2 separate regions of the Homo sapiens genome follow, and region 2 is linked to region 1. The links come from fine-mapping of genetic effects on gene expression. A gene starts in region 1. The other region holds a variant in brackets. All regions are shown on one strand. Distances are from middle to middle. Region 1 holds the start of MYOF (myoferlin). Region 2 overlaps MYOF (myoferlin).

Evidence for each region. PIP is the estimated chance that this variant, and not a neighbour inherited with it, causes the effect.
Region 2: its variant is the best candidate, but not a certain one, in a credible set for the expression of MYOF in transverse colon (CEDAR, PIP 0.55).

The regions. Positions count from the first base shown.
Region 1 is chr10:93,479,305-93,484,682 of GRCh38, reverse strand. It overlaps MYOF (myoferlin), which reads left to right and starts at 2,349. Exons shown (of 54, transcript NM_013451.4): 1 at 2,349-2,576. The coding sequence starts at 2,489.
Region 2 is chr10:93,449,537-93,454,914 of GRCh38, reverse strand. MYOF (myoferlin) reads left to right here. Exons shown (of 54, transcript NM_013451.4): 3 at 2,774-2,865. Among named protein-coding and RNA genes, the nearest start is that of MYOF, 30 kb to the left of the region's middle. The variant C/T (reference allele first, on the strand shown) is at 3,086.

The DNA of each region.
Region 1 (5,378 bases):
CATAATACAGCAAAGAATTCACAAAGTATGAACACATGTATGTGTGTACCTATATATATGAATATATGTGTTGTATGTAAAGTTCATAACATACAAAAGAATTTATATCACCAAACAAAGGTCATGAGCAAGCAAACCTAAACTGTTTTGTTGTTGTTGTTTTCGGTAAAAACTACAAAGAAAAGCAAGGAAATCATTACCATAAAAATCAGGAGAGTGGGCCAGGCATGGTGGCTCATGCCTGTAATCCCAGCACTTTGGGAGGCCGAGGTGGATGGATCACCTGAGGTCAGGAGTTTGAGACCAGCCTGGCCAACACGGTGAAACCCTGTCTCTACTAAAAATACAAAATTAGCCGGGTGTGGTAGTGCACGCCTGTAATCCCAGCTACCTGGGAGGCTGAGGCAGGAGAATTGCTTGAACCCGGGAGGTGGAGGTGGCAGTGAGCCGATCACCCCACTTCAATCCAGCCTGGGCAACAAGAGTGAAACTCCATCTAAAAAAAGAAAAAAAAATCAGGAGAGTGGTTACCTCTGGGAGAAGGAGGTGGATATGATATATGGGGTATTCCAGGGGCTTCTGGAGGACTGGCAATGTTCTGTCTTGACCTGGATGCTTGTTAAACTGTCACGTTTATGTAGTATGCATTTTTCTGTAAATATATTTCACAGTAAAAATGGCAAATAGAAAGCAGCCAGATAAAATAAAAGTAATAATCTCTATATTCCACTAAAACTGCCAACATGTCCACTAAATACAATAATGAACACAGCACTGGGTAATTGGTTCTTTGCTTTAAGCCTTGGAGAAACTCGTGGAGACAGAAGAATTCTTGTAGGTTAAGTCATGCTTATTCAATGTACTTGAAATGTTTATTTACAGGTGGGTCTGCTTGATGTGTGTTCTAAAGCAAAAAGAAGCCCAATGTTTCTTCATCCCAAGTTTTAGCCTTTTCTTCTGAAATATAACGAGATCCTGATTTAAAGTCAGCCTGCACTAACAGAAACGCTGTGAGACCACAAATAAGCATGAACTTCTTACATGTGCAAATTACTGTGTGCTTTGTGCCAGCTCCTATGCTATGACCTTTATCTTATAACAGCCTTTATCCCCAGTTCATAGATGAGGAAACTGAGGAAGAGAGGGGTTAAGAAACTTGCTCGCCAGCACGGTGGCTCAAGCCAGTAAAGCTCAAGCCAGTAAAGCTCAAGCCACGGAGGCCGAGGCGGGCGGATCACAAGGTCAAGAGATCGAGACCATCCTTGCCAGCATGGTGAAACCCCGTCTCTACTAAAAATACAAAAAAAAAAAAAATTAGCTGCGTGTGGTGGCGCACGCCTGTAGTCCCAGCTACTCGGGAGACTGAGGCAGGAGAATCGCTTGAACCCGGGAGGCAGAGGTTGCAGTGAGCCAAGATCGCTACACTGCACTCCAGCCTGGTGACAGAGCGAGACTCCGTCAAAAAAAAAAAAGAAAAGAAAAGAAAAGAAAAGAAACTTGCTAAGATGACGTAGCTCAGGGTGGTGAGGCAGAGTCTCACACTCAGATCTGGCTGACTAACCCCAGGCCGCCTCTTGTGATCTCAGCCAAGCTGCACTGTCTTCATGCACCCTCTGGGACAGAAAGACACCATGGGCAGCTGTAGGTCCAGAAACAGTGGGGAGTCACTTCTCCATTTTCACTGAAGGCAATTGGCAGCATTTGAAGAGCCGGGAAAACTTAGGCGCCCAGCTCTCACCTCTGAAGGGGTTTTGAAGAAATTCTATGTTCAGTCCTTTATATATATATATATATATATATATATATATATATATATATATATATATATATATATATAATTATTTATACATATATGTAATTATTTATATATCCCATGCCTGGATCGCGTTTACTTGAAATAAACGCTGTCATTCGTTTGCCGTCCAGTAAGAGGCACCCTTTAGCTGCTTTAAAAAAGCTGAACATAGGGTTACTGAGTGGGTGTGTTCAATGGCGTGAGAAGTAACAGCGAAAAGTCAAAAGCAAATAATGACTAAAGTTTTAAAACTCCTTGAAACTCAGAAAAGAATGAAAGCAGTGACGGAAAAATCAATTAATTCAGTTTCACGAACCATTGCTAAAAGGCAGCAACATTTTAGTGGTTTCCTGACCTACCCGTATTTCTTAGCTCCAAATTCATGTTGGTTTCATTTGTCGCACGGAATTATTTTTAGTTTAGGGTTTGTCCTTTTCACTTCCACATTTCCCGAATTCATAAGTCTGTGCCTGCGGCACTGCGTAGACGCGGGGAGTTCGGTATCAGTTTACACGTTGCCTTCAGTAAAATCCGCCAGAGGTCCACCCATTTTGCCTTTTCCCCTTCCTTGCCCTGGGAGAAATCCTCCCTTCACTGGGAGAGAACTTCTCTCCCAGGGCGGTGCGACCCGGAGCTCCAGCGCCCTAGTCTCCACTTCGTTTGCTGAAACTTGCTTTCTACCAGCTAAGAACCATGCTGCGAGTGATTGTGGAATCTGCCAGCAATATCCCTAAAACGAAATTTGGCAAGCCGGATCCTATTGTTTCTGTCATTTTTAAGGGTAAGAAAAAGTTTTCTTCTTTTTCTGAAGTCCTGTTTTGGAATGTTAGTTTCTTGAGTCACCTTCTTGAAAAGTCTGCATTTAGACAGCTGATGAAGCCAAGTCTCTCCAGCAGCGTTTGTTACCTGCGCAGGACAGGGGAGAGGACCCGTTTCTGGGGAAGGCATTTAATTTTCTCCAGGGCTTGAGACTCATGGAATGACCTGATGTTTTAGCTCTAAGAGTGTGATTTCTGTAAGCTCTTGGCAGAAAACGTATTTGCGAATCACTAAATTTCAGGTATCAACAAACATCTGTATTGGTTCAAAGTAAGTTTCAGTAGTCTTAGATGCATTTTTTCTCTGCCTGTGAGAAATGGGTAAAGGAGGAAGAAGAGCAATTAAATTGTTGGAGACACCATTACTCCTTGAACCAGCCTGACGCTGCTTTGATTGTCACTGGGTTTCTGGGAGGTGGGATGGGTGAAGTTCATAGTTTTATTGAGTTTTCCTGCCCTTTTGTGCCTTTGTAATTGTTTTTATATCTAAACTGTTGGGGAGCTTTTTTTGTACATTCTGTAGCTTTTAAATTGCTCATTGAGGAAAGAACTCTGGACAGCTAGTTTGCAATTTGGGGATCTAGTTCTATCTTGCCTGCTGAATGACCTTGGGCAAGTTACTTCATTTCTCTGGGATCTCAATTTTCTTTTCTGCAAAACAGGCGAGAAGGGTTTAGACAAGATCATCTCTAAAAACCTCATGGTTGGCTGAGCACAGTGGCTCCTCAACCCTGAGCCAACTTTGGGAGGCCAAGGCAGGAGGATTGCTTGAGCCCAGGAGTTTGAGGCTACAGTGAGCCGTGATCACGCCACTGCACTCCAGCCTGGGTGTAAAAATAAATAAAAATAAAAGGCTCATGGTAATTTTAAAAGGCTATTTTTCTATGACACTTGATTGCCATTGCAGGGGAGGGGACAGGAATGCTTGGTGTCATGGTACAATTTGATGTAAGTGACTTAGTTTTGGCTAAAGTGGGGTTTCTAAATCTCAGTGTGGAGGCTTTATCTATTTTGTTTGTCATTGGTAAGACTGCCAACTCACTTCTTGGCAAGAGGGATGGGAAAGAGAGGGAAAGGCAGAGAGAGTGGGAGCATGGATAGACATGTGTTTCCTGACCATGCCTTGCTACATTTCTCGTTTCTTCCAGGAGCCTGACTGCTACTCCCTGTCAGTTCCTGAGGCATCTATACCTTTCGCCTTTCTGTTTCCCGTTTTTCCCCTTTATTTCTCTTCTTAAACCTCTCTCTCTGAGGATGAGCAAGAAAATGAAAGAAATGAAACTCAAAGCTGGCTGGCTGGGTGTGGTGACTTCTGCCTGTAATCCCAGAACTTTGGGAGGCTGAGGTGGGTGGATCACATGAGGGCAGGAGTTCGAGACCAGCCAGGCCAACATGGCAAAACCCCATCTCTACTAAAAATACAAAAATTAGCCGGGCATGGTGGCACATGCCTATAATCCCAGCTACTCGGGAGGCTGAGGCAGGAGGATTGCTTCAACCCAGGAGGAGGAGGTTGCAGTGAGCCGAGATCATGCTACTGCACTCCAACCTGGGCAACAGAGTGAGACTCCGTCTCAAAAAAAAAAAAAAAAAAAAAAAAAAGCTGGCAAATTGTTGGTTGGTTAAAAAAAAAATCTAAAGGGCAAAAATTGGATTTAAAAAAAATTTAAAAAAATTTTTTTGAATAAGACTGGGTCTTGCTATGTTGCCCAGGCTGGTTATAATTCCCTTGCTCAAACTTTCTTCCCATCTCAGCTTCCCAAAGTGTTGGGATTACAGGCGTAAACTACCACGCCCAGCTTAAAATTGGGCTCTTAAAGGACAATGAGGTTTGAAAATCTGGCTAGTGAATATCATGGACTCACGTTATGTCAGAGTTTATTTACATGTGTTAGGTTTTATTAATTTTTTGTTTTCTTGAAGCAGTTACATAATAGAGACATAATATGAAGATTTTACATCCTTCATCATTGACATATAAAGACATTAAAATATATTTGGATCAGTCCGATCATGTAATTATTTAAGTATTATAGATTATAGAGGAATTGGAGTTAATACTATATTGAAATCTGACTTGTTATTTGTCTGGAGTTTGTATGCATTGATGAAACATTTTAAATGATGAAAAATATATCTAAGTCAATGAATGCAAACAATCAATTGAAAGTGGAAAACTTCAGTTAAGTTGGCAAATATAGTCTATACAAACAATTACACATTTAACTTTAGTCTCTTTTCTGGCCTCCTTTTTTCATACAAATCGAGTGGTAAAGTCATTCATTCATTTAGCTAACAAGCAACCTGACAGAGGAAAGGGCACTCAACTCAGAGTAGGAACATCTGCATTCCAGCTGACATTAACTCAATATCTGATTTAACCACCTGGGTCTCCAATTTCTCAGCTGTGGCATGATGGGAACTGGTCTTTAGATGCCTTCCGTCTTTTAGATTCTAATTTTCTAGTTCCAGGTATTGAGTTAGCTGCTCTCAGCAAGATGTGAAATGCATTGCCTTAGGTGCTGGAGGGGATATAGCAACAAACACAGCACTCTTCTTGCTTTCAGTCTATGTCGGTGGTTTAAAATCCTGGTGATGGCAAACCCTTTACAGGTGTGTTCCCAATTTTGAGCACTGCGTAAAATTAAGTAACATTAAGTTCTGACTGAACTGAGGATACTTATAGCAAAATACTGTCCATCAGAGGGAACATGGAACAAAGGCAGACACACTTCATAGTGTGGAGTGGGGCAGGGTATGGTAAA
Region 2 (5,378 bases), 30 kb after region 1:
CTCGATCTCCCAGGGCCAAGCGATAGCCCTGCTTTAGCCTCCTGAATAGCTGGGACTACAGGTATAAGCCACCATGCCCAGCTAATTTTAAAAAACATTTGTAGAGATTACATCCTGCTATGTTGCCCAGGCTGGTCTTGAGTTCCTGGTCTCAAGCCATTTTCCCATCTTGGCCTCCCAAAGTGCTGAGTTTACAGGCGTCAGCCACTCTGCCCAGCCTTTTTAATGCCTTTCTGAAACGCCCAGCAGGTCTCAGGCAGGTTGAGAGGGAATTCCACTTATCTGTAATTTCCCCAGAATCCAGAACACAGCCAGCTGGACTACAAGCTCCATGAGAGCAAGAGGCCCCTTGGGTTGGTCATTGTGGATTCCTAGCACCTGACAGAACTCCAAGAATAAAGCAAATAAAAAATGCATTTATGTGAGAGTGCTTCCTACTTCAGATTTTGAATCATCCCAACTCATCTCTTCAAATTTGAGATTGAGATCAAGCCACGTGACCAATGGCAGAGAGAGATGTGCTGTCATGCGAGCTGGCATGTCCTCTGCAGGGAATCAGCCATCTTATTCCATTTTGTTTCCAACATGTTTTTTTTTTCTTTCCTTTCATATTGCAGATGTACTTATCAAGTAAACTGTTTTATAATTGAAACCAAACACAAATGAAATGTCAACCCCAAACCCACTGGGATTGCTGGTGCTGGGTGTGTTCTTTTTTTTCTTTTTTCTTTTAAGATGGAGTTTTGCTCTTGTTGCCCAGGCTAGAGTGCAATGGTGCGATCTCGGCTCACTGCAACTTCCGCCTCCTGGGTTCAAGTGATTCTCCTTCCTCAGCCTCCCAGGTAGCTGGGATTACAGGCATATGCCACTACGCCTGGCTAATTTTGTATTTTTAGTAGAGATGGGATTTCACCATGTTGGTCAGGCTGGTCTCGAACTCCTGACCTCAGGTGATCCATCTGCCTTGGCCTCCCAAAGTGCTGGGATTACAGGCATGAGCCACTGCGCCCGGCTCTTTTTTTTCTTTTTTGAGACAGGGTCTTCCTCTGCCACCCAGGCCAGAGTGTAATGGCACAGTCATAACTAACTGCAGCCATAACTAACTGGGCTCAAGCAATCCTCCCCACTCAGCCTCCCAAGCAGCTGGGACTACAGGCACACACCACTGCGCTCTGCTGATTTTTAAATTTTTCACAGAGACAGAATCTAAGTTGTCCAGGCTGGTCTTGAACTCCTTGCCTCAGCCTCCCAAAGTGCTGGAGTTACAGGTATGAGCCACCATTCCCAGGCTGGGTGTGTTCTAAGAGAAGCTCTGAGGCCACGTGTGGTGGCACATGCCTGTAATCCCAGCACTTTGGGAGGCCAAGACGGGTAGATCACATGAGGTCAGGAGTTTGAGACCAGCCTGGCCAACATGGTGAAACCCTGTTTCTATTAAAACTACAAAAATTGTCCAGGTGCGGTGGCTCACGCCTATAATCCCAGCACTTTGGGAGGTCAAGGCGGGTGGATCATGAGGTCAGGAGTTCGAGACCAGCCTGGCCAACATGGTGAAACCCTGTCTCTACTAAAAATACACAAATTAGCAGGGCATGGTGGCAGGCGCCTGTAATCCCAGCTATTCGGGAGGCTGAGACAGGAGAATTGCTTGAACCCGGGAAGTGGAGGTTGCTGTGAGCTGAAATTGTGCCACTGCACTCTAGCCTGGGCAACAGGGCAAGACTCTGTCTCAAAAAAAAAATTAGCTGGGTATGGTGGTACACACCTGTAATCCCCAGCTACTGAGGAGACTGAGAACTTGTTTTTTTTTAGAAGTGCTAAAAATAATTTTTTAAGAAGTTCTGAAACAAGTTTTCCTTCCATTCCAAGCCCACTACAAGGAGGATCAAGTCATCATTTAATTATTACCTAATCAGTCAAAGGCATCAGTGACGCTTTATCAATCTTTTTTTTTTACTTTTGTCATTAGGAAGCAACTTACTGCATTAAAATGAGAGTCTCAGAAAGGTCGGTATATTATAGCATTGACCGACCATGGTGGAACTTAAAATGAGAGGCATTTTAGAAAATGTTTTCTTAGATTATTCATCTTCTTTGTTTGATAGTAGTATGATTAAGAAGAGCAGATAATTTAAAACTAGCCATTGAAGAAAATGTTTTCACATATACCCTGCATTTTATTCTTTTTTAATTTTTTTATTTTTGTTATTATTATACTTTAAGTTCTAGGGTACATGTGCACAAAGTGCAGGTTTGTTACATATGTATACATGTGCCATGTTGGTGTGCTGCACCCATTAACTCATCATTTACATTAGGTGTATCTCCTAATGCTATCCCTCCCCCCTCCCCCCACCCCACAACGGGCCCCAGTGTGTGATGTTCCCCATCCTGTGTCCAAGTGTTCTCATTGTTCAATTCCCACTTATGAGTGAGAACAACACCCTGCATTTTATTCTTGCAGCAGTTGTGGTAGTCGTTGAGTCCAGCTCTTGAGTATGAAGCAGGGGTGTGGTCACCTGGTTGAAGCCACAGAACCTAGAAAGCAGGAAGCCAGGAGTTGTCTACAGGTCCTCTAAGTCGACATCTGGTTTGCTTTCCTGCCCCCTCAGCTGCCTTCAGGTTTAGAATTTAATCATTTCTGCATAACTTCAAAAGATTGTCATTGGTGAAAATAATGACCCAACATGTAGTACTGGTGCATCTTAGTGTAATCTCTGCTCCTTCTAACAGCCTTTTTTTTTCTCTTTTTTCAAAACCTTTCTGTGAACAGATTTTGGAGTTTGACTTGAGGGGTATACCACTGGACTTTTCATCTTCCCTTGGGATTATTGTGAAAGATTTTGAGACAATTGGACAAAATAAGTAAGTTGTTTTCACCTGTTTTTCTCATTTTAGGTATTACTATCTCACTGTTGTTTATTTTGTTGAAGAGACACATCTTTAATAACGTATTATAATACTTCCAATATAAATGTGCTTTAATTCCATGCCCCGCTCCCTTCTAAGCCAATAGCAGATGTGGCTAATCCATCACAGCACTTTTTCCCAATGACTGCTTTTATTCCAAAAAAGCTGCAAACAC[C/T]GAGCCACCTAGACTAGTTTATCAAACTTGGCACTTAGAGTGAAGCCTGTTCACATGCCTACAACTTCTTGGTCAACTGCACTTCCTACCTCTGGCAGTTTATCTGAACTGTAGTGATATTGGATACAACCCAAATCACTTCTTCTGATTATTTGTGGCCTATACATGTCTCATTCAAGTTTTACTTTCAGCCCCATTTCCATGTTAATGTCTCCTTCGCCTTTTAATCCCAACAGACCTAAACAGACCTTAATCCTTGCCTTACTGCCTCTTTCCTTTCACATGGGGAAGGGTCACGGTGGTGCCCGTGGTGACACTGAGGGTTGTCCTCTGAGTAAAATTGGGAGACTTCCCAAACAGGTTCCCGTGGGACAGAATGATCTTAGTATTAATAAATTCACCCTAGTCCTGGATCTGGACTTTGGCCTTGTAGACCCAGTCGTATGTTACCAATTCAAACTAACCAAGTTCACAAGAGACTAAAGGTTTTTTTCTTTTTTTTGACTCTGTCACCCAGGCTGGAGTGCAGTGGCACAATCTTGGCTCACTGCAACCTTCACCTCCCAGGTTCAAGCAATTCTCCTGCCTCAGCCTCCCAAGTAGCTGGAATTACAGGCGTGCACCACCACGCCCAGCTAACTTTTATATTTTTAGTAAAGACAGGGTTTCACCATGTTGGCTAGGCTGGTCTTGAACTCCTTACCTCAGGTGATCTACCCGCTTCAGCCTCCCAAAGGGCTGGAACTACAGGTGTGAGCTACCGTGCCCAGCTGATACTAATACTTAAAACCAGAATACCTGCTTATTTTCCTTCTGGTGGAAGTCAATTGCCTAGTGACAGGGCATTTCTACCCTCCAACCCATGAATTTTCCTTCAAGTCATACCACATGGGAAGCCAAATTACTTTGTATCCTCGATTTCAAGATGTTATTGTTTATAAAGTATACTATCAAATTAATAAATGGTTAGGGGCCAAAAAAAGCGTGATATTTAATGCCCCCATCAATTGTAAGAAGCATTTCAGTTTTTAGTAATGTTAGTACATTTAAAAATGTATGTCTTAGGCACATCTGATATAATCTGAAGGCTGCAGTGAGAGCAAAAATTTAGGATAAATTAGTTGAGGTAGGTGGTCACATGCTCTGATTGCTTGAGACAGTCCTGGTTTGCTGTCCTAGCACAGTGATTAATAATGCCCCTTTTGCAGTCAACGTGGCTGGGTTTGGACAGTAAATTATTATTATTTTTTGTTTTTGAGATGGAGTCTCACTCTGTCACCCAGGCTGGAGTGCAGTGGCGCAATCTCAGCTTACCGCAACCTCCGCCTCCTTAGTTCAAGTGATTCTTGTGCCTCAGCCTCCTGAACAGCTGGGATTGCAGGCATGCACCTCTCCACCTGGCTAATTTTTGTGGTTTTTGTTTGTTTGTTTGTTTTTTGAGATGGAGTCTTGCTCTGTCGCCCAGGCTGGAGTGCAGTGGCACGATCTCAGCTCACTGCAACCTCAGACTCCTAGGTTCGAGTGATTCTCCTGCCTCAGCCTCCTGAGTAGCTGGGACTACAGGCGTGTGCCACCATGCCTGGCTAATTTTTGTACTTTTAGTAGAGATGGGGTTTTACCATGTTGGTCAGGCTGTTCTCGAACTCCTGACCTCATGATCTGCCTGCCTCGGCTTCCCAAAGTGCTGGGATTACAGGTGTGAGCTACTGCACCCGGCCTATTTTTGTGTTTTTTAGTAGAGATGAGGTTTCACCATGTTGGCCAGGCTGGTCTCGAACTCTTGGCCTCAACTGATCTGTCCACCTCAGCCTCCCAAAGTGCTGGGATTACAGGGGTACAGTAAATTAGATGGTCACTCCAGTTATTGGGGTCTTCTGCTTACCGGCATCAAAATAAGAGAGTCTGCACAGACATGGACTCCCTGGACAGTGCTTTGATAGGCACTCCCATCTTCGCCTTTGATGACATCCTTTTTACCATTCTCTGTTGCTGACCGATGCCCCCTGCATATTTTTCTGTAACTATATAAATACATTCTGGGCCAGGTGTGGTGGCTCATGCCTGTAATCCTAGCACTTTGGGAGGCTGAGGTGGAAGGATCACTTGAGCCCAGGAGTTAGAAACCAGCCTGGGTAACATAGTGAGACCCCATCTCTAAATAAATGAATACATACCTGCATACATTCTAGCAGGTTCTGGTCCCACTCTCTTGCACTGGAAACTATTCTAGCTTTTTAAGTTTCTGTCGCATATCTCAGCTGCGAACTATTATATGATTATTTATTCCCCACCC